Linked DNA regions of Homo sapiens: region 2 is linked to region 1. Evidence: fine-mapped expression QTL. Tissue or cell type: whole blood. Region 1 holds a variant in brackets; the other region holds the start of a gene. Each region is shown on its reference strand, or each on the opposite one.

Region 1 (11,194 bases):
ATAAATTTGTGGTATTTTGTTATAGCAGCCCGAAGGGACTAAGATATCCCTTATAAAGTGCCCTCATTAGCGATCAATGATGATCATTACATTTTCCATTAGGTGCAGCAAAATCACGATATTCTATAGGCCTTCTGCATTAATCATTTACATCCTCAGAAAAACTTTATTTTTTTAAAGTTTTTCCTCATCTGCTATTTGGTTACCCTGTTCATCAGTTAGTAAAGAATTATTTCCATATATTGATCATTTTCAGAATAATTAGTTCATGCCATACCAACCTCCAAAGGTGACTGCATGATTGTTTTAAAATCACTTTTAAATTACTTTTTTAAATTGAGGTATAATTCACATATAAAATTTATTATTTTAAAGGATGCTATTCAGTGGTTTTTGCTATATTAACAAAGTGTGAAGCTATCACCACTAACCAAATTCCACAATATTTTCATTACCTCAAAATGAAACTCGGGAGCCGTTAGTCGTCACTCCCTATTCTCCTGCAGTAGGAAAGCACAATCTACTTTGTGTCTCTATAAACTTGCCTTTTCTGGATACTTCATATACATGGGATCATGTAGTATGCGGCCTTTAATGTTTGGCTTCTTTCACCTAGCATAATGTTCTCAAGGTTCCCCCATGTTGTAGCATGTATCAGTATGTTATTCCTTTTTTATGGCTTAATAATATCCCATTGTACAGATATACCGTATTTTTAAAATCTGTTCTTCATTTGACGGACATTTGGGCTATTTCCAATTTGGAATATTATGAATAATTTTGCTAAGAATATTCATGTACAAGTTTTTGTGTGAACATGTTTTCATTTCTCATGACTATATACCTAGAAGTAGTATTGCTTGGTCACAGAGTAACTCTATGTTTAACCTTCAAAAGAACTGCCAAAGTGGTAGCACCATTTCATAGTCTCACTGGCAATGTATTAGCGTTCCAATTTCACCAGTTCTCCAATTTCTCCACATCCTCCCTAATACTAGTTATTTTCCATGCATTTTATTTTAGTGGGCATGGAATGGTAACTCATTGTAGCATTTCCCTCATGACTAATGGTGTTAAGTATCCTTTTGTGTGCTTACTGGCCATCTGCCTATCTTTTTTGGAGATAAATATTCTTTGTCCATTTTAAAATTGGGTTGTCGTTTATTATTGAGTTATAAGAGTTCTTTATATATTCTGGACACTCCACTCTTATCAGATGTATAATACGCAAATATTTTCTCCCATTCTGTGGGTTGTCTTTATACTTTCTTGATTGTGTCCTTTGAAAAACATTTTTTTTCTTGATGCTGGTTAAGCTTTATTTAAAAAAAATTTTTTTTAACTTTTCTAAGACAGCTTCTTGCTCTGTCGCCCAGGATGGAGTGCAGTGGTGTAATCATAGCTCACTGCAGCCTTGAATTCCTGGGCTCAAACAATCCTCCAGCTGCAGCCTTCCGAGTAGCTGGGACTACAGGTGCATGTCACTATGCCCAGCCAGACATTTTTAATTTTGATCGAGTCTAATTTATCAGTTTTTTTCATTCCCAGTCTAATTTATCAATTTTTGTATTGCTTGTACCTTAGGTGTCATATCTAACTAAATGTTATCTAATCCAAGGTACAAAAATTTACCCAGGTCCTCTTCTACAAGTTTTATAGTTTTAGCTTTTACATTTAGGTTTTTAAGACATTTTGAGTCATCTGAATATGGTATGAGATGGGGATCACATTCATTCTTTTGCATGTGGATATCCAGTTGTCCCCGTACCATTTGTTGAAGGCTATTCTTTCTCTACTGAATTGTCTTGGCACCTTTATTAAATGTGGGGGTTTATTTCTGTACAATCAATCCTAATCTGCTGATTTATGTGCCTAACCTTATGTCAATGCCACAAGCTCTAATTTACTGTTGCTTTGCATTAAGTTTTGAAATTGGGACCTGTGGGGCCTCCAACTTTGTTCTTTTTCAAGATTGTTTTGGCTATTATGGGTCCCTCACATTTCCATATGTATTTTAAGATCTGCAAAAAAAAAAAAAAAAAAAAGCTAGAAGGGATTTAACAGAGGTTGTGCTGAATCTATAGATTAATTAATTTGGGGAATACGTCATCTTAACAATAGTTAAGTCTTCCAGTGATGAACACAGGAGATCTTTCCATTTATTTAGGCCTATAATTTCTTCAAAAAATGTTTGATAATTTTCAGTGAACAACTCTTGCAGTTCCTTTGCTAAATTTATTCCTAAGTATTTTATTCTTTTTGATGCTATCATAAATGAAACTGTTTTCTTAATTTCATTTAGATTTTTCACTGCTAGTGTACAATTTCTGTATGATGACCTTTTGTCCTGAAACCTTGCTAATAGACAAGCTTTAATTTGCATGTGTGTGGATTCCTTAGGATTTTTCTATATTTAAGATCATGTCATCAGAAAATAGAGATAGTTTTGCATCTTCCTTTACTGGATAACTTTTATTTTTTATTCTTCTCTAGTTGGCCTACTAGGAACTCCAGTACAATGTTGAATAGGAGTGACAAGAGTGGATTTCCTTGTCTTGTTCCTGATTTTAGAGAGAAAGATTTCAGTCCTTTACCATCAAGTATATTGTTGACTCTGGATTTTCCACTGAGGTTGAGAAATTTCCCTTCCATTCTTAGTTTTTTTTCACATAAAATAGCATTAGATTTTGTCAAATGCCTCTTTTGTATCTGCTTAATAATGTGGGTTTTGTTCTTTAGTCTATTCACACAGTATATTACATTACAATGGTCCTCCCTCATTAGCAGTTTTGCTTTCTGTGGTTTCAGTTACCTGTGGTATAGTACACTAACGTATTTTGAGAGCAATCACATTCACTTAACTTTTATTATGGTCTATTGTTATAATTGTTATCTCTTATGATATCTAATTTATAAATTAAACTTTATCACAGGTATGTATGTATAGGAAAAAACAGAATCCATAGGGTTTAGTACTAACCATGGTTTCAGGCATCCACTGGGGGTCTTGGAATGCATCCTCCTCAAATTTGAGGAGGGGAGTACTGTAATTGATTTTTATAGGTTGAAAAATACATACTCTGTTTTAGAATTCTGTAAGTTATACAGAACAACACTTAAAAGAGTTATTGTAAATATAGAGCAAAATAACTGGCATGAAAGCCTACTTCCTACTTAAGACAGAAGAGTGTCCCCTAGATTTCTGTGTGACAGTATGAATGGTTCAAGGATATCTGTTTCAGGTATTGCTTTGTATGTTTTACTATTTCATCCATATTTTCTGTTCCCATCCACTATAAATAAAGCTAACAAGGAGGAAACTGAAGTAGACAAAGAATTGAGAAAGAGGTTGTGACTAACAAACTACATTATCAACTCCTAATTCACTGACAATAAATGCTAATATGAATCATTGATAGCAATCTTAATGTGAGTAATACATTAGTAGTATTGGCAATAAAACATGTCCCTTTTTGGAAGGATAGATGGAAAACACATTAGGTTGGTGCAAAAGTAACCGCAGTTATTGCCATTAATAAGTAAAAAGGAGAGTAAAGACAGAAAAGGGTAAGCAGTAGTACAGCTAAAAATGGAGAAATGATAATAGCTGTAATGAACCACAAAATGATGCTGTGGTCAACAATGGACCACATATGTAATGATAGTCCCATACGATTATAATATTGTATTTTTACTGTACTTTTTCTATGTTTAGACATACAAATAATTAACACTGTGTTACAAATGCCTACATACTCAGCATGGTAGCATACTCAGTATGATAGCATGCTGTACAGTTTGTAGCCTAGGAATAATAAGCTATATCATACAACCTAGGTGTGGAGTAGGCTATACATCTAGGTTTGTGCATGTATACAATATGATGTTCACACAACAATGAAATTCCCAAACAACAGATTTCTCAGAATTAATTCCTGTCATTAAGTAATGCATGACTTTAATCCCAGCTAAAATCTATCCTTCTCACGAGGGAAGCACTTCCTGCTCCTGACCTCCTTCTCCATCAAGCCCTAAATACATGGTTGATAGGAACTTGGAATTCAACTGCAAACTGACAACTGTTACCAAAATTTTTCTCTTCTATTCACAGAGTGTATAACTTTTTCTTTCCTTTCTTGCATGAAAAAGCTTTCATGTAGACTCGTTTAAGATACAGAAGAGGCTGGGTGCAGTAGCTTACACCTGTAATCCCAGCACTTTGGGAGGCCGAGGCAGATGGATTGCTTGAGGTCAGGAGTTCGAGACCAGCCTGGCCGACATGGTGAAACCCCATCTCTACTAAAAATACAAAAATTAGCTGGACTTGGTGGCGGGCGCCTGTAATCCCAGCTACTCAGGAGGCTGAGGCAGGAGAATCACTTGAACCTGGGAGGTGGAGGTTGCAGTGAGCCAAGATGGCGCCACTGCACTCAAGCCTGGGCAACACAGTGAGACTCTGTCTCAAAAAAAAAAAAAAAATACAGAACAGTTTGGTAATTAAAACTGGGTTACACAAAGCCTTCTGTGTGTGTGTGTGCACATGTATATATGTGTATATTTTTCTTATCTATGTATATAGCTTTTCTTATATAATAGAAATGCTCCCTTGAAAAATATTTGAAAAGTATGAATGGACAGCCTACTATGTGCAATTGCTATGTAATATGGTCATTTACACACCACACACCCTATCCTTAATAGGCAGTCAATTTCTTAAGGATGGGATCCACACATGACACTTAATATTTTGTCTTGTGTACGTGGTAGCAGAAAAAAATATTTTCTGAGAAAACTAAATGAGATTTGGGTTCTAATTCGCCTTCCATCACTTCTTAGCCATGTGACCATGAAAAGACAGTTAAAACTTTGGGTCACAAGTCTATCATCTGTAATCCAGGAAAACTGTGCTGGGATTTCTGGGCCTATGATTAAAGGGAGGGCCAGCCATGTCCTAGAGTTTCTGGTGACCCTCTTCCAAAGTAGCAAGACACTTCACCTATGAGCAGACAAAAGAAGAGACAGGGTTTAAACTAGCCCATATAGTACATATGAGTGAATTAGAAAAAAGGTCCCTCTTCCTCTAGGTCAATGAAGCTCCATGCCAAGGCACGCGGCACAGTGAATAGAGCACAGCTAGGTTTCAGCAGTACACAGCTCTCAGTGTAGCACCCTTGTGGCAACCTCATAATTATCAGAGGGCCTGGAGATGCTGGTGCCAACAGAGGCACAGAGTAGCCATGGCATGGCAGCACTACTGGGCAGATCTAACAGGATCTTTTTCCTACCCTCCTTTGAAACCCACTGCATGCTATGAACCAGATTACCCTGGGGGAAGCAAGCTAAATATACACCAGATAAAAATATAGGCCAGGCGCAGTGGCTCACACCTGTAATTCCAGCAATCTGGGAGGACAAGGCGGGTGGATCACGAGGTCAAGAGATTGAGACCATTCTAGCCAACATGGTGAAACCCCGTCTCTACTAAAAATACAAGAATTAGCTGGGCGTGGTAGCATGCGCCTGTAGTCCCAGCTACTAGTGAGGCTGAGGCAGGAGAATCGCTTGAACCCGGGAGGCAGAGGTTGCAGTGAGATGAGATTATGCCACTGCACTCCAGCCTGGCGACAGAGCAAGACTCCGTCCAAAATAAAAATAAACCCAGTGTGGGTCTTAGAAAGACTCTAAGTGGCATACTCAGTGGAGTTTTTTGGGCGGGCTCCACTGGGAAAGCCGAGAATTGCCTGTTCTGCAATGAGGATGAGGATGCAAGGAAAGAAGATCAGGCCTCCCCTAGTCACTGAACATAATAAAGAGAGATGAGTGATATTTTTAAACAAAAACTGCCTAGTAAATTCTCGGGTTCCACAAATTACTTTCTGTTAACTTAGATTGTTAACTAAACTGGTTGGTTTAATCTCTGAAATATTTTTAATATAAATAATATGTTAAAGACTATCACTTTTCCCCATCTTTGCTGAGCCACCACCATCTTTTGGTAGAACTATTACAATAGCTTCCTGACTGGTCTTCTTCCTTCCCTCTTGCTATCTTACAATCAAGTCTCCACTTTTACCTACATCAATCACATCCCATGACTCCCCTGCTATAAATTTCTTTCATGCAGAGCTTTTCAACACAGTAGAAGTCATTATTTCAAACCTCAGGTCTGTTCCAACTATATCCATGGAAGCTCTGGTTCATCCAGCCACTTTCAGACTCAGATGAGATGCCACATCACTGGACATGCGATCTGGCTTCCCTAGCAGCTGCCCAAGGGTTGTGCCAACACCTGCCCAAATTGTGGTAATGCCCCAAGGATGAACTTTGACCAGTAAAAGACAAACATATTGGGCTGTTCCAAAAGGTGGTAGTTTCACATGGTCTGGCTAGAAGATGCACCATGTACAAGACAACCAGCTCAGATTTTCTGCAAGGTTAAGGTTCCCTTGGTAATATCATTCATCTTTCCTTGCCTCACTTCCCTTTTTCTTTCATTCCTGCTGGTCTTGGTTAGTACCA[C/T]TCAATAAAATGTTAGGACCCGGGCTTTACTTCCAGCTCTGTTTAATAAGAAAATAGGGCCAAAACCCTAGAAGGTAGGTAAAATGTACCTTCTTTGTATTCTTAAAATACCCAAACATCTCCTCTACAATAGCACACATTCTGGAGTTGGACAGGTAATAGTTTTGTGTCCTTAGGCAGAGTTATTTCATCTCTCTGAGCCTTGTTTTCTTCATCTGTAAAATGAGGATTATAACAGAACATACCTGGATAACAGAAGCTACTAAGATAATCAATGCAATGTAAATTATGCCAGGTACATGAGAAATACTCAATAAGACAGCCATTATTATGATTATGTGTTATCTATCCTTGTATTTCTAGTGCTTAACATAACATCTACAATACAGTAAGCAGATATGTCTAATGCCGAAAATATTTACATACTACATTTCCCTATATTTTAAGAATGCCTACTAGGTAGCAAAGTTTGAGAGATCTGTATGGTTTCAATACGAAAGACTAAGGAGTCTGTAAAAACAAATTAAATATATACATGAATGCTTTCTGAAAAATGTTTCTTTACTGCAAGTTAAAATTAAGTTCATTTTACATGTGTGTTTTCCCTAACTTATCAGGAAAAACAATCAAGTCAAAAGTACAGATGTAGCCAGCTTTAGGCACAGTTATATTCCCAAGAGGATGTGTACAAATCAAAGTTCTGCAAATCAAACCGTATTTCGTATGCATTAAGGAAAAATCACACTTAAAATCACTTCAACAGAGAATGCTTTTGTAAATTGTTTTTGTAAGTGAATACTTCTTCACATCCATTAAATAGGTTGACTCATAAATTTTATCTTAGATTTTTATACAGAAGAAAATATAACCATTGATAATATTAAGTAACAGTGTTGATCATTATAGCTATGATATTTATTTCCTCTAGTAAAGCAAACTAAATAGAAATGTTTCCTTCATAAAGTGTTAAAAAGGAAGATCCCAAGAAATAAAATTATTAGTATTATGAAATTAGAAAGAAAATAAAAACATTTATATATATTTATGCAGCCTTTTGTGGATATGTATGCATACATGTACTATGCACATGTAAAGCCCACACATAAAAAAAGAGAAAGAAAATGAATCAGAATGCTCATATCTGTACGGTAATTTAACAGGTGACTTTTACTGTTCTTATTATGCTTTTCTTTATTTTCAAAATTTCTGCAGTGCACATGTATTACTGTTTAGGGTCTCAAAAAATAGTCTTTTCAAAAAAAAAATGAATCACTCATTTCTGATAGTTTGAATTTTACTAAAAAGTTGGACGAATCACCAGGCTTCACTCTCAGAAAGTCCTTTCACGGAAAATATTTCTTGGTTCATCTGGAACTAATGGCTTCAAGAAAGCAATATTGATATTTCTGACAATCACTTTTATGATCTCCAGTATTCCTGATGGTCAAGCCACATTCCTACCTCTCTGACTCTACTGACAGTATAAAGGCATTGCTCTACTTCCTGTAAGTATAAAAGGTAAACTCTGTGTCCTCAAGAGTAGTTATGCAATGCTCTTAGACAGAATTCCAGAAGTGTGTATCTCTTACAGGAAGACGCACAATTTTCTAGGCAAGAGTTGGCAACCTCAAAGGATTCCTCTTCACAATGGGAGTCTGTGCCTTTGGCTTTCACTGCAAAATACTTACTCTCAATTAGAGGCTTATCATACAGGTAAGAAATGGTTTGTGCAGCTTACTAACTGGAAAGCCTGACTTTCTAGTAAATACTCCACTCTGCAGGTAATGTATTAAGATCTAGCTTCTTTTCTCTTCTCCCTTTGCCAGACTTTTTACTTTAAGCCACATTTCAAGCATCTATAATTATTCTCCTTACTCTAGAAGACATGATATAGGAAAACAAACTATAATGTTTCTCCCAGAAATCATAAGAAAACACACGAAAAATTACTTTCTTAAATCCAACAATTGTACTGGGTATTGCCCATTATCTTTAAAGTTTTGAATCAAAATGCTTCTGGACAGTGAACATATTACAAAAGAAAATGCGACTCAGTATTTAACCTCTTCCATTTCAATGTTTTGCGAGTGTCTCGTTTTTTCAAACTTTTGATAGAGTTTATTTGTAGCACTAACTTAACATACTAACAGCAGAGTCCACAGCATCCAAAATACAGACACATTTATACGCTCAGAGTTGTTTTGTTTCCAGATCAACATAATTAATCATTAGGGAAATGCAAATCAAAATCAGAATGAGATGCCACTTCACACCCATTAAGATGGCTATTATCAAAAAAAAAAAGATAACGAGTATTGGTAAAGATCTAAACAAACTGGAACTTGTGCATGGCTGATGGGAGTATAAAATGGTGCTGCTGCTGGGGAAGAAGTTTGTTCATTCCTCAAAAAGTTAAACATGGAATTACCATATGATATACCCAAAAGAACTAAAATGACTCAGATAATTTATACATTATAATTCATTGCAGCATTATTCATAATAGCCAAAAAGTGGAAACAACCTAAACGTCCATCAACAGATGAATTTGGATAAAGAAAATGTGGTAGTTCAACATCACTGATGATTAGAGAAATACAAATCAAAACCACAATGAGATACCATCTCACGCCAGTCAGAATGGTGATTACTAAAAAGTCAAGAAACAACAGATGCTGGTAAGGCTGTGGAGAAATAGGAAAACTTTTACACTGTTGGTGGAAATGTAAATTAGTTCAACCACTGTGGAAGACAGTGTGGTGATTCCTCAAGGATCTAGAACCAGAAATACCATTTGACCCAACAATGCCATTACTGGATATATACCCAAAGGAATATAAATCATTCGACTATAAAGATATATGAAACATATGTTTATTGCAGCACTATTTACAATAGCAAAGACATGGACCCAAACCAAATGCCCATCAATGATAGACTGGATAAAGAAAATGTAGTACATATACACCATGGAATACTATTCAGCCATAAAAAGGAATGAGATCATGTCCTTTGCAGGGACATGGATGAGGCTAGAAGCCATCATCCTCAGCAAACTAACACAGGAACAGAAAACCAAACACTGCATGTCCTCACTCATAATTGGGAGCTGAACAGTGAGAACACATAGACACAGAAAGGGGAACAACACACACCAGGGCCTGTTGGAGTCAGGAAGGGAGGGAGAACATCAGGACAAATAGCTAATGCATGCCGGGCTTAAAACCTAGATGACAGGCTGAGCGTTATGGCTCATGCCTGTAATCCCAACACTTTGGGAGGCCAAGGTGGGCAGATCACGAGGTCAGGAGTTCGAGACCAGCCTGGCTAACATAGTGAAACCCTCTCTCTACCAAAAATACAAAAATTAGCTGGGTGTGGTGGCATCCACTTGTAGTCCCAGCTACTCGGGAGGCTGAGGCAAAAGAATCACTTGAACCCAGGAAGCAGAGGTTGCAGTGAGCTGAGATCACACCACTGCACTCCAGCCTGGGTGACAGAGCAAGACTCCAACTCAATTAAAAACAAACAAACAAACAAAAAACTAGATGACAGGTTGGTAGGTGCAGCAAACCACCATGGCACGCTTATATCTATGTAAAAAACCTGCACATTCTACACATGTATCCTGGAACTTAAATAAAAATTAAAAAAAGAAAATGTGGGATGTGTGTATACTGATAAACCAATATACACACACAGCCCCCCACCCCACACAGTATGGATCAACCCTTCATATACTACATGAAAGAAGCCAATAACATAAGGACAAATATTGTACGATTCCATTTATATGAGGTATTAGACCAGGCAAATCCACAGAGACAGAAAGGAGAATAGAGGTTACTAGGGGTGAGGGAGATGAGAGATGGGAGTTAGTGTTTAATGAGTACAGAGCTTCTGCTCGGGATGATGAAAATGTTCCAGAAATGCACAGTGCTGATAAATGTTGTTGTGAATGCACATAATGCCACTGCATTGTATATACTTAAAAAAACGGTTAAAGTGGTAAATTGAAAAGAAATATAACTGGCTATTTAAAGAAAAATAACAACAATGTAGTGTAAGTTTACAACACACATAAAAGTAAAATGTGTAACAATAACAGCACATAGATTGGGAGGAGAGAAACAGAAGTGCACTATTATTAAGTTCTTATACTTTAAGTGACATGGTGTAATATCACTTGAGAGTAGTCTGTGATCAGTCAAACATACATACTGTAAACCCTAAAGCAATCAATAAAATTAAAAAAAAAAGAAAGATGGCTAACAAGCCAACAAATGAGTGAAAATGGAACCATGAAATATCAAGAATCAAAAATGTAGCTTGATCCAAAGATTTCTAAGAAAATTCATGGTAAAGGGCAGGAAATATTTTTTATCACCCAGTGAAAGATTAGTTTATTAAAACCTACTCAGAAGCATAATTAAATCAATGAAAATAAATAGTGACAGCACTTACTGCCCAGACCGGTGATGTAAAACCCAGAATTGCAGCCTTAGCTCCATCAGCAACATAAGGAATAATATTTTCTCCCAGGCGCGTATCTCTGAACAATGCTCTAAGGATATTTAAAGCATGAACCTAAAACAAGAAGTTCAAAATTAGTTGTGGGTTGAAAACCATGGCTAATTCTAAATCTACACATATCCAATAGTACAGCTTCAAAACA
Region 2 (11,023 bases), not on the chromosome of region 1:
CACGCCTATAATCCCAGTACTTTGGGAGGCCGAGGCAGTTGGATCACCTGAAGTCAGGAGTTCAAGACCAGCCTGGCCAACATTGCGAACGCCGTCTCTACTAAGAATATGAAAATTATCTGGGCATGGTGCCGAATGCCTGTAGTCCTAGCTACTCAGGAGGCTGAGGCAAGATAATCGCTTGAACCCAGGAGGCAGAGGTTGCAGTGAGCCAAAATCGTGCCACTGCACTCCAGCCTGGGTGACAGAGAGAGATTCCATCTTAAAACAAAAACAAAAAAAGAAACAAACAAAAATCCAAAATACCTTATCACTAATATCCTCAGAGAAACAAGGTCAAATATCGCAAGCATGAAACACAAACAGATTACTAATAAAACAAATATACACAGGCTGGACATGGTGGCCCATGTCTATATTCCCAGCTACTCAGGAGGGTGAGGTAGGAAGGTCACTTGAGTCTAGCAGTTCAAGGCCAGCATGGGCAACATAGCAAGACCCCACCAGTGAAAAAAATATGATAGGAGGAATAATAGCTCAATAGGACTAGAGGAGAAAGTTGAGAAAATCTACTAGAAAACAGAACAAAAGGCAAAATGATGGGAAATTGGAAATAAAATAAAATGGAGAATAAATGAAATCGAGAATGGGAACTGGAGAGCCAGTTTGGGAGACCCAACATCTAAAGTATAAGTTCAAAAAAGAGACACTGAAAAAATAAAGAGAAGGAAATAATCGATGAAATAATTCAAGACATCTTCCCAACACTGAGGGTCATGAATTTCAAGACTGAAAGGACCTACTGAGAGCACTGCACAATTAATAAAAATTGACTACACCTTGGCACATCATTGTGAAATTATGGAAGCTGGGCCAGGGAGAGGCTCCTAAAAGCTTCTGGAGAAAATGTCATGTCATATGAAAATAATCAGGAATGCAAATAGCTCTAGGCTTCTTTATAGCAACACTGCTACCATTGGAGCAGTGCTTTCAAAATTCCGAACCAAAAAAAAAAAAAAATTGATTTCAGAGCTACTATTTAAGTGTATAGATAGATTATAGGCATTTCCAGACATGCAAAGTCTTAAAAACTTCTCCTCCCTCCCACATACCCTTTCTTGCTTAGCCCAAGAAATAAGCCAGGAAATAACAAAACATGAGATCCGGGAAACAAATCTCCAGCACAGCAGAGAGGTAAAAGGAAGACAAAGGATGGTGGTGAAGCAAGAGCTCAGGAGGACCAGGAAAGAAGCCAACAGGACACACTGGAGAGACTCCTTCACACAGTGGAACCGACTGGGAAATGGATGTGTCTGAACTGATAGAGAGGCAATCTGAACAAGTGGTGAAGTTTCGGATTAAACTAATGAAAAATATATAGAAAACCAGACCAATAATATAATCATTATTATATAGAGAAACAACAAAAGGTTTTGTATGGAAGAAAAAAATAATTACAGTATACTATAAATGTCCCCTATGAATAGCATATCCATAACAAAAATCACGTAAACACTGAGTGTCGTTTGCTCGGTCCTAATAAAACTGTACTAGAAGGATGGGGGTGAGAAACGTTTGCAAATGGGAGCAAGACTAGGAAAGAAAATGAAATCCTATCTTCCAGGCCAGGCACGGTGGCTCACGCCTGTAATCCCAGCACTTTGGGAGGCCGAGGCGGGCAGATCACAAGGTCAGGAGTTCGAGACCAGCCTGACCAACATGGTGAAACCCTGTCTCTACTAAAAATACAAAAATTAGCCGGGCGTGGTGGCGCATGCCTGTTATCCCAGCTACTCAGGAGGCTGAGGCTGGAAAATCACTTGAACCTAGGAGGCGGAGGTTGCGGTGAGCCAAGATCATGCCATTGCACTCCAGCCTGGGTAACAAGAGCGAAACTCCGTCTCAAAAAAAAAAAAAAAAAATCCTATCTTCCACAGGGGGAAGCCAATATTTGCCTAAAGCTGAAAAATCATTAAATAAACAATCATGCATGCTATTTTGAGATGCAGTGGTTTAGATTATCAAAGAAAGTAGTGAAAGTTATTGTCTTTCATGAGAGGGAAAGGACAGAAGTGGAGCAGGAAGCAGTTGTTGGTGAGAGATTTGTAGAACTATTTGACTCTTTAAATCATATGCATCTACAGCTTTGATGAGAATATTCGAATTTAAAAGAAAGTAAAAGAGAAGACAGGAAAGAGGAAGGAAGGGAGGGAGGGAGGGAGGGAAACAAAGGCCCGGTGCAGTGGCTCACGCCTGTAATCCCAGCACTTTAGGAGGCTGAGGCAGGTGGACCACCTGAGGTCAGGAGTTTGAGACCAGCCTGGCCAATGTGGCAAAACCTCATCTCTACTAAAAATACAAAAAAATTAGCCGAGCGTGGTGATGGGCACCTGTAATCCCAGCTACTCAGGAGGCTGAGGCAGGAGAATGGCTTGAACCCAGGAGGCAGAGGTTGCAGTGAGCCGAGTTGGTGCCATTGCACTCCAGCCTGGGCAACGGAGCAAGACTCCATCTCAAAAAAAAAAGAAGGCAAGCAGGAGCCAAATCATTCAGGGGCTCAAAGATGGGGTGCACATGACTTAATGGACATTTTAAAATCTCAAGTAAACCCCTTTCCCAGTCAGGGCTCAGATTTCTTCATCTATATCTTGAGGGGTTGGGTGACAACTCCTGTTCAACCTGTCTGAGATCATCATGAGCTGTAGGACAGAATGTAATAAAATATTTACATGATCAAGGGCGATGGTTCTTTTTTTTTTTAACCTTTTAAGTAGGAAGGGTAATGTGCTGTAACAAGATTTGAGACAAGCATGTCTCATATATAAGCATAAAAACCCAATCATCATGCTTACCAAGTACAAAAGGATCAAGGGCAGTGGTTCTAAAGAAGAATCACCCTACTGTAAAATGTAGATTCCCTGGCTAATCTTCTGGGGAGTCTGCCTCCTTGGTGTGAGGCAGGGATGGGGAACTGGCATTTTTTTTTTCTTTTGAGACAGAGTCTCACACTGCTCATTCTGCTGCCCAGGCTGGAGTGCAGTGGCATGATCTCGGCTCACTGGAATCTCTGCGTCCTGGGTTCAAGCGATTCTCCTGCCTCAGTCTCCTGAGTAGCTGGGACCATGGGCACCCACCAACAGGCCCAGCTAATTTTTGTATTTTTAGTAAAGATGGTGTTTTGCCATGTTGGCCAGGCTGGTCTCAAACCCCTGACCTCAAGTGATCCACCCACCTCTGCCTCCCAAAGTGCTGGGATTATAGGCAGGAGTCACATCCAACCCGGAACTGACATTTTTAATAAGCATTCAAAGACATCTGATGCCAGCCATCTGCTTGCCACACGTTGAGCAACGCTACTCCAGGACAAGTCCTTGGAGGTGCAAGATCACAGGTTTAATTGAGATAAAACGGCAAATCAATTCCCCTTTTCAGGGAGAAAGTGTCAATTTGGTATTGATATGTTTTTAGCACCCCTTTAGCGTTAGATAATCTCCTGGAACAGGGAGCTGGCCACAGGCAAAAGAATCTACCTGGAATTGAATTACACTGTTTGGTTTTCATTGCATTCTCCTTTATTCTTACCTTCTATTATGGGAAATGAAACGAATTTTCGATTTACAATAGTGACACAAAGTTTCCTTTAAAATAGATTCACTGAAATTTCTAAGTATCCAAGGATGTATTTTAGGATGAAGAGACAATAAAGCATTTTCACTTTTTCCTAGACTCACTAGATTTTGGCACATGGATACTTGCAATATTGATTTGTATTATGAGAGTGATCTAATTATTACAAAAGGAGCTATAATCACTAACTTATTCTTAATAATAATGGTTACTGGTACCTTTACAATAATGTACAATCCAATGTTTAAAAATGATACCACTTGAGTTTGGTTTGATCCTATAAACTTTCAACAAATGTCTTGGGAGGCCAAGGCAGGCGGATCACAAGGTCAGAGATGGAGACCATCCTGGCTAACACGGTGAAACCCTGTCTCTACTAAAAGTACAAAAAATTAGCCAGGCGTGGTGGTGGGAGCCTGTAGTCCCAGCTACTCAGGAGGCTGAGGCAGGAGAACGGCGTGAACCCGGGAGGCGGAGCTTGCAGTGAGCCAAGATTGCGCCACTGCACTCCAGCCTGGGCGACAGAGCGAGACTCCATCTCAAAAAAAAGAAAAAAGAAAAAAAATTTTTTTTTCAACAAATGTCTTAAAATTTAAAAGCAGGCTGATTAGTTTGGAACCAGACTACAAGTAGAGCTAACATTTGGTGAATAAGAAAACATCACACTACATTTTGGATGTATGAAAGAAAACTTGACCATGTGAAGATATATGAATAAAGAAATGTACTATAGATACTACTTTAGGAAAAAAAAGAGTGATCTATAAATAAAAACATTTGACGTATTTGAAAACGTGTGGGTCTTGCATACGACTCACATGATAAATCTAAAATTCAACCTAGCAATGGATAAGAATTAAGAACGGATGGTTTGGGCAAAGGACATTAACAGACATTGCTCCAAAGGTGATACATAAATGGCCAACAAGCAAATGGAAAGATGCTTAACATTACCGATTATTAGGGAAATGCAGATCAAAACCACAATGAGATACCAGTTCAGGCCCATTAAAATGGCTATTATCAAATAAACAGAAAATAACAAGCATTGGTGGACAAACTGGAACCCTCCTCCTGCATTGCTGGTGGGAATGTAAAATGTTGCGTCCATTGTGGAAAATAGTATGGCGGTTCCTCAAAAAATTAAATATACAGGCTGGGCACAGTGGCTCACGTCTGTAATCCCAGCACTTTGGGAGGCCGAGGTGGGTGGATCGCCTGAGGTCAGGAGTTCAAGATCAGCCTGGTCAATGTGGTGAAACCCCATCTCTATTAAAAATACAAAAATTAGCTGGGCATGGTGGCAGGCGCCTGTAATCCCAGCTACTTAGCAGGCTGAGGCAGGAGAATCGCTTAAACCCAGGAGGCGGAGGTTGCAGTGAGCACAGATTGCGCCACTGCACTCCAGCCTGGGCAACAGAGCGAGACTCGGTCTCAAAAAAAAAAAAAAAAAATTAAACATACTGTTACCATATGATCCAGCAATTCTACTACTAGGTATATATCCTAAAGAATTGAAAGTAAGAACTGGAGCGTGCAATATTGGTTTTCTGTTCCTGTGTTAGTTTGCTAAGGATAATGGCCTCCAGCTCTATCCATGTTCCCACAAAGGACATGATCTCATTCTTTTTTTTTTTTTTTTTGAGACGAAGTCTCGCTCTATCACCAGGGCTGGAGTGCAGTGGCACGATCTTGGCTCACTGCAACCTCCGCCTCCCGGGTTCAAGTGATTCTCCTGCCTCAGCCTCCTGAGTAGCTGGAATTGCAACCTCTGCCTCCCGGGTTCAAATGATTCTCCTGCCTCAGCCTCCTGAGTAGCCGGAATTACAGGCAGTCACCACCACACCCAGCTAATTTTTGTATTTTTAGTAGAGATGGGGTTTCACCATGTTGGTCAGGCTGGTCTCGAACTCCTGACCTCGTGATCTGCCTGCCTCAGCCTCCCAAAGTTCTGAGATTACAGGTGTGAGACACCATGCCTGACCATGATCTCATTCTTTTTCATGGCTGTATAGTATTCCATGGTATATATGGAATATACATGATAAGTCACTCTCACTTCAGTTGGCTTTCATGAAACACTGTGACAGGCACAAGAGGACAAAGTGTCTGCCGGCATCGTTCTCCTCCTACCTCATTGACTGAACTTTGCTGCTTCCACTCCTTTGCATGACTTCCAAATATCAGAGGACCTTAGGGCACAGCTTGTGCCTCTTCTCTTCTCTACTTATAGGATATTCTCTGCCTAGTGATCTCCACCAGCCTGTGGTATAGATGTACCTGTGTGCTTGTGACTCAAAGATGCACACCTGCAGTCCTGAGCTCTATGCCCAGACGTGGGTTCTCCACTTGGATGTCTAATGGCCATCTCAAACTTAGCATCTCCAGACCGAAAACCCCAAATCTGTTATGTTATTCCCCCAAAGCCCAAATCCATAACTTCCCCTTGGCATCTCTCCCCCAAATCCCTCCCTCACTGCACTCTTGCCTTTCCCTCCTCCAACAAGCCAAGCTTTTCCTAACCACAGGGCCTCTTCAGGAACAGTTTCCTCTGCACAAAACTCTGTTCCCCAGACAGATCCTTTCACCTCCTCTGAGGCTCTGAACGCCTCCCTTCCCACCTCTGCTTCTCACTCCTTCACATTAGTCTGTTTCATTTCCTTCATTGCACTTATTATCATCTGAAATTATGTGTTGGTTTACTTATTTTCTCTCACACTTGATTTTTTTTTTTTAGACCGAGATTTGCTCTGTCGCCCATGCTGGAGTGCAATGGCACAACTTCACCTCACTGAAACCTCCGCCTTCCGGGTTCAAGCTATTCTCCTGCCTCAGCCTCCTGAGTAGCTGGGACTACAGGCGCCCGCCACCACGCTTGGCTAATTTTTTTGTATTTTTAGTAGAGATGGGGTTTCACCATGTTGGCCAGCAACTGTGCCTGGCCTCACACTTGATTTTTAATCTCCATGAGAGCAAGCACTAGGTCTTGCCTGGGCCTTTATCAATAGCAGTGAGCATAGCACCTGGCACAGAGGTAGTTCTGAACATTAATTATTGAATGAAATAAAATAATGAATGTAGGCTGGGCGCGGTGGCTCACGCCTGTAATCCCAGCACTTTGGGAGGCCGAGGCAGGCGGATCATGAGGTCAAGAGATCAAGATCATCCTGGCCTACATGGTGGAACCCCGTCTCTACTAAAATACAAAAATTAGCTGGGCATGGTGGCACTCGCCTGTTGTCTCAGCTACTGGGGAGGCTGAGGTAGGAGAATCACTTGAACCCAGGAGGAGGAGGTTCCAGTGAGCCGAGATCATGCTGCTGCACTCCAGCCTGGCGACAGAGCAAGCCTCTGTCTCAAAAATAAATAAATAAATAAATTTTAAAAATAATGAACGCAGGCCCAAGAAGAGTTGTGGGAAATGGGGTGATATTTTTGCATAGACTTCTAAGGCTAAGAAGGAAAACAAACAGACGTGGTGGGCACAAATCTACCCCCACCCCAACTGGGTCCCAACTCTAGGCTCTCTGGCCTGGCACCACCACTGAAAGGCCCCGTTCCCCAAACCTCAGGGTATTCTTAGTCCCTCCTGTTCCCAGCGCTGCCAATCCCCCGCCCACCCCCACTTTAGTTGCGTGTTCCAGCCTCTCCGCCCCGCCCCTCCCCGCCCTGAAACGGACGTGCTTTTTAGAGGAGTCCACTGGGCTTGGAGTCAGTGGCAATAACCAGGGGCAATAACCAGGCGTGTCCCAGGGGGGAGCCCCGCTCTGCAGCCCTGTGCGCCGTAGAGAGCTGGACTTAGGCTGGCAGCATGGCCGAGTTCAGGGTCAGGGTGTCCACCGGAGAAGCCTTCGGGGCTGGCACATGGGACAAAGTGTCTGTCAGCATCGTGGGGACCCGGGGAGAGAGCCCCCCACTGCCCCTGGACAATCTCGGCAAGGAGTTCACTGCGGGCGCTGTGAGTGCGTGGGAGTGGATGGGGTGGAGGTGAAGGGGGCGAGCAGGAGGGTCCGGCCTGACGCATACTTAACCTCCCCTCAGGAGGAGGACTTCCAGGTGACGCTCCCGGAGGACGTAGGCCGAGTGCTGCTGCTGCGCGTGCACAAGGCGCCCCCAGTGCTGCCCCTGCTGGGGCCCCTGGCCCCGGATGCCTGGTTCTGCCGCTGGTTCCAGCTGACACCGCCGCGGGGCGGCCACCTCCTCTTCCCCTGCTACCAGTGGCTGGAGGGGGCGGGGACCCTGGTGCTGCAGGAGGGTACAGGTGAGGGGCGGGCCGGGCTGGGGCTGCAGGGGGAGCACAGGAAGGGGTAGGGGACTGGGGGTTGGGGAGAAGGGCAGGTGAAATGGAGAGGTGAGCTGGTGTGGCCACAGAGTAGCGGGCAGAGGAGAGGGAATGGCGGAGCCTTGGGGAGCGGGAGGTAGCAGCCTGGTGTAGGAGAAACTGTACTTATGGGAGGAGGGGACCTGGTAGAGGGTGGCAATCGTGGAGACTGTGTGGCTGGTGGTAGTGATGGTGAGTTTCTCTCCCCACCCCAACCTACTCCCCTTCTCCCACAGCCAAGGTGTCCTGGGCAGACCACCACCCTGTGCTCCAGCAACAGCGCCAGGAGGAGCTTCAGGCCCGGCAGGAGATGTACCAGTGAGGAGGGGGTTACTGATGGGGGAGGGTGTGCCCAAACGATGAGGGGCAGCTTGAGTGTCCTGGTCATGACAGAGATTAAAAGCCCCTGCCTCCACCTCTCCTATCAAAGCTGCTCCTGGGATCAGCAGCGTCTACAGGAACGTATTAGAAATGCAAATTCTCAGGCCACCTCCAACCTACTACGACACTGAGGGTGTAGAGTGGGAATTTTTGTTTTGACAAGCCTTCCAGATGACTCTGGTGGCCACTGATGTTTGAAAAACACTGCTCTAGGGCCAGGTGCCGTGGTGGCTCACACCTGTAATCTCAGCACTTTGGGAGGCTGAGGGAGGCGGATCACTGGAGGTCGGGAGTTCGAGACCAGCCTGGCCAACAGGGCGAAACCCCATCTCTACTAAAAATACAAAAATCAGCTGGGTAGGGTGGCGGGCACCTGTATTCTCAGCTACATGGGAGGCTGAGGCAGAAGAATAGCTTGAACCCGGGTGGTGGAGGTTGCAGTGAGCCGATCACGCCATTGCACTCCAGCATGGGGGACAGAGCAAAACTCCATCTCAAAAAAAGAAAAAAAAAAAGGAAGGAAGGAAAAGGAAGGAAAGAGAGAAAGAAAGAGAGAGAAAGAAAGAAAGAAAGAAAGAAAGAAAGAAAGAAAGAAAGAAAGAAAGAAAAGAAAGAGAAAGAAACTGCTTTAAATGCCTTACCTTTGCTGGTGTCTTCCTTGCCCTGGGACTTTTTCATGCATCGGCTTGTTGTGTCCTCCCAGAAATCTGAGTAGAGCCAGAAACACGCCCTTCAAGCCCCAGGAAACTCACCCTCCAGGGCTAGCAAGGGGTGAGATGGGGGCTCTCTCTGTGCTCTGGGCTCAGCATTGGAGATCACAGGGGAAAACTGGGACTTGGAGATAACAGAGGAGTTGGGGCCGCTAGTGAGGATTCCCTTGGCACAAAGCCAGGAACTGCATTCAGAAACAGATTTTCAAAAGATCTTGATCCGGCCAACTCATCTGCTATCTAAAGCCTGGGCTGCAGGCTTTTGCTCCTGGTCTGTGGGATCAGAGCAGCCACAGGCTCATTTGGTTCCTGGTGATTCTCCATGTGTCATGAATTCCACCCCTAAGGAAACCATTGCACCAAATCTGGCAGCAACAGCCCCAAGAGAGGGAATAGACATTGAGATCTACTGTGTCCATGGAGACCCAGAGTCAGCCTAGGCCCTGCCAAAACGAGCTGTGAGATCTTAGACCAATTTTTTCATCTCTTCAATTCTTATTTTCTTCTGTAAAAGAAACTAAGAATACCAATCTCGTTTGGGTTAGGAGGAACAAATGAGAAAATGGTTAAGAATGTAGGTGGTCAGCTGCTAAGTCTTGCACAACTGTGTGCTCTTGCTGTTGTTCCTGTCTTTCAGTTCACTCTGTTCCAACACTCTAGGCTCTTATAAAACGTACAGTGAGGTCTCAGATCCATTGCAACAGCATTGCCTGGGAGCTTGTTAGAAATCAGAATCTGCATTTAACCAAGATCTCTATGTGAGAGGGATTCAAGTCTGAGAGGAAGGGTTTGGCCACCACCTGGTGGCAGTGTACTTTAATTGCAAATTTTTCTTTGAAGTTGAAAGCTCAAACCCAAAAGCAAGTTTTGAATGAATCAAAGAATGAATGAGTGAGAGCATGACTGGCTAGGGGTCATCAAGTTTGCAGATACATGAATTTACCATTTCCCTGGAAGGTCTTTGGCTGTGTTGCTTGTTTGAGAATAGAATTTAGAGATGCCTCGGGCGGCTCCCCCTAAACTATGAAGGCTGAAGTGCCTCTCTATGGGACACCTACCAAAGGCAACTGAAACCTTCTGCGCAGCCCCTGTCCCAGGATAGTCTCGCCTCTACAAGATGCGTCTGTGTTAGTCGGGACTTCTATAGTTGCAAGAACAAAAGCTAACTCCAACTAGCAGGCAGAAAAAAAGTTTGTCGGCCAGACACAGAGGCACTTACAGAAACACAGGCAGGAATTGTCCACCCAGTGGAAAATGGCCATAACTAACAGTCTGTGTTTACTGCTATAATCTACATATCCAGAGAGAGACCACCTCTCTGGCTCAGCCCCAATGGCAAATTCCCTGGAAAGGACTCTGATTGGCCCAGCTCTAGTCAGGTGCTCAACTCTGGACCAATCACCCTTGACCAGGGGAGCCATCTCACTGTGGGAAAATGGCAGCTCCCTTGCAGCCTCCTTGGGTAGAATGGAAGGGCAGCTCCCAGGAGGGCCCTCTTGGCTGAAGGGGTCTGGCTGTGACCAGGCCCCCCAAGGGGACTGCCACTCCATCTGCCCTAGCAAAGAGTCTCCCTGAGGCCTCTTGCTGACCACCTTCCCTCTCTACCCTCCAGGTGGAAGGCTTACAACCCAGGTTGGCCTCACTGCCTGGATGAAAAGACAGTGGAAGACTTGGAGCTCAATATCAAATACTCCACAGCCAAGAATGCCAACTTTTATCTACAGGCTGGCTCTGCGTGAGGATGCCCACCCTTCCCTGCCCCTGGGCCTCAGATGCCCTATGACCTCTGCCTTCTGCCCTCCCCTAGTCAGTTCCCCCACCCTCAGTGATATGAGTCACATAGTCCTGCCCAGGAAACAGCCTCCTTCCCACTACCAATCCCACAGAGCAACAGCTACCTTAGGGGTAGTGACTACCTTGGGCCCGGAGGCTGGTTCAGGATCCCAAGAGGCATAAGGCTGGCTGACAGGGAAGGGTCTCCCAG

What was found. PIP is the estimated chance that this variant, and not a neighbour inherited with it, causes the effect.
Region 2: ALOX15B starts here. The variant in region 1 is the best candidate, but not a certain one, in a credible set for the expression of ALOX15B in whole blood (TOPMed, PIP 0.52).

The regions. Positions count from the first base shown.
Region 1 is chr2:43,487,850-43,499,043 of GRCh38, forward strand. It overlaps THADA (THADA armadillo repeat containing), which reads right to left. Exons shown (of 38, transcript NM_022065.5): 25 at 10,984-11,106. It also overlaps the pseudogene RN7SL531P. Among named protein-coding and RNA genes, the nearest start is that of THADA, 100 kb to the right of the region's middle. The variant C/T (reference allele first, on the strand shown) is at 6,520.
Region 2 is chr17:8,031,718-8,042,740 of GRCh38, forward strand. ALOX15B (arachidonate 15-lipoxygenase type B) reads left to right here and starts at 7,342. Exons shown (of 14, transcript NM_001141.3): 1 at 7,342-7,585; 2 at 7,669-7,888; 3 at 8,185-8,266; 4 at 10,652-10,774. The coding sequence starts at 7,439. It also overlaps the pseudogene LOC124904131.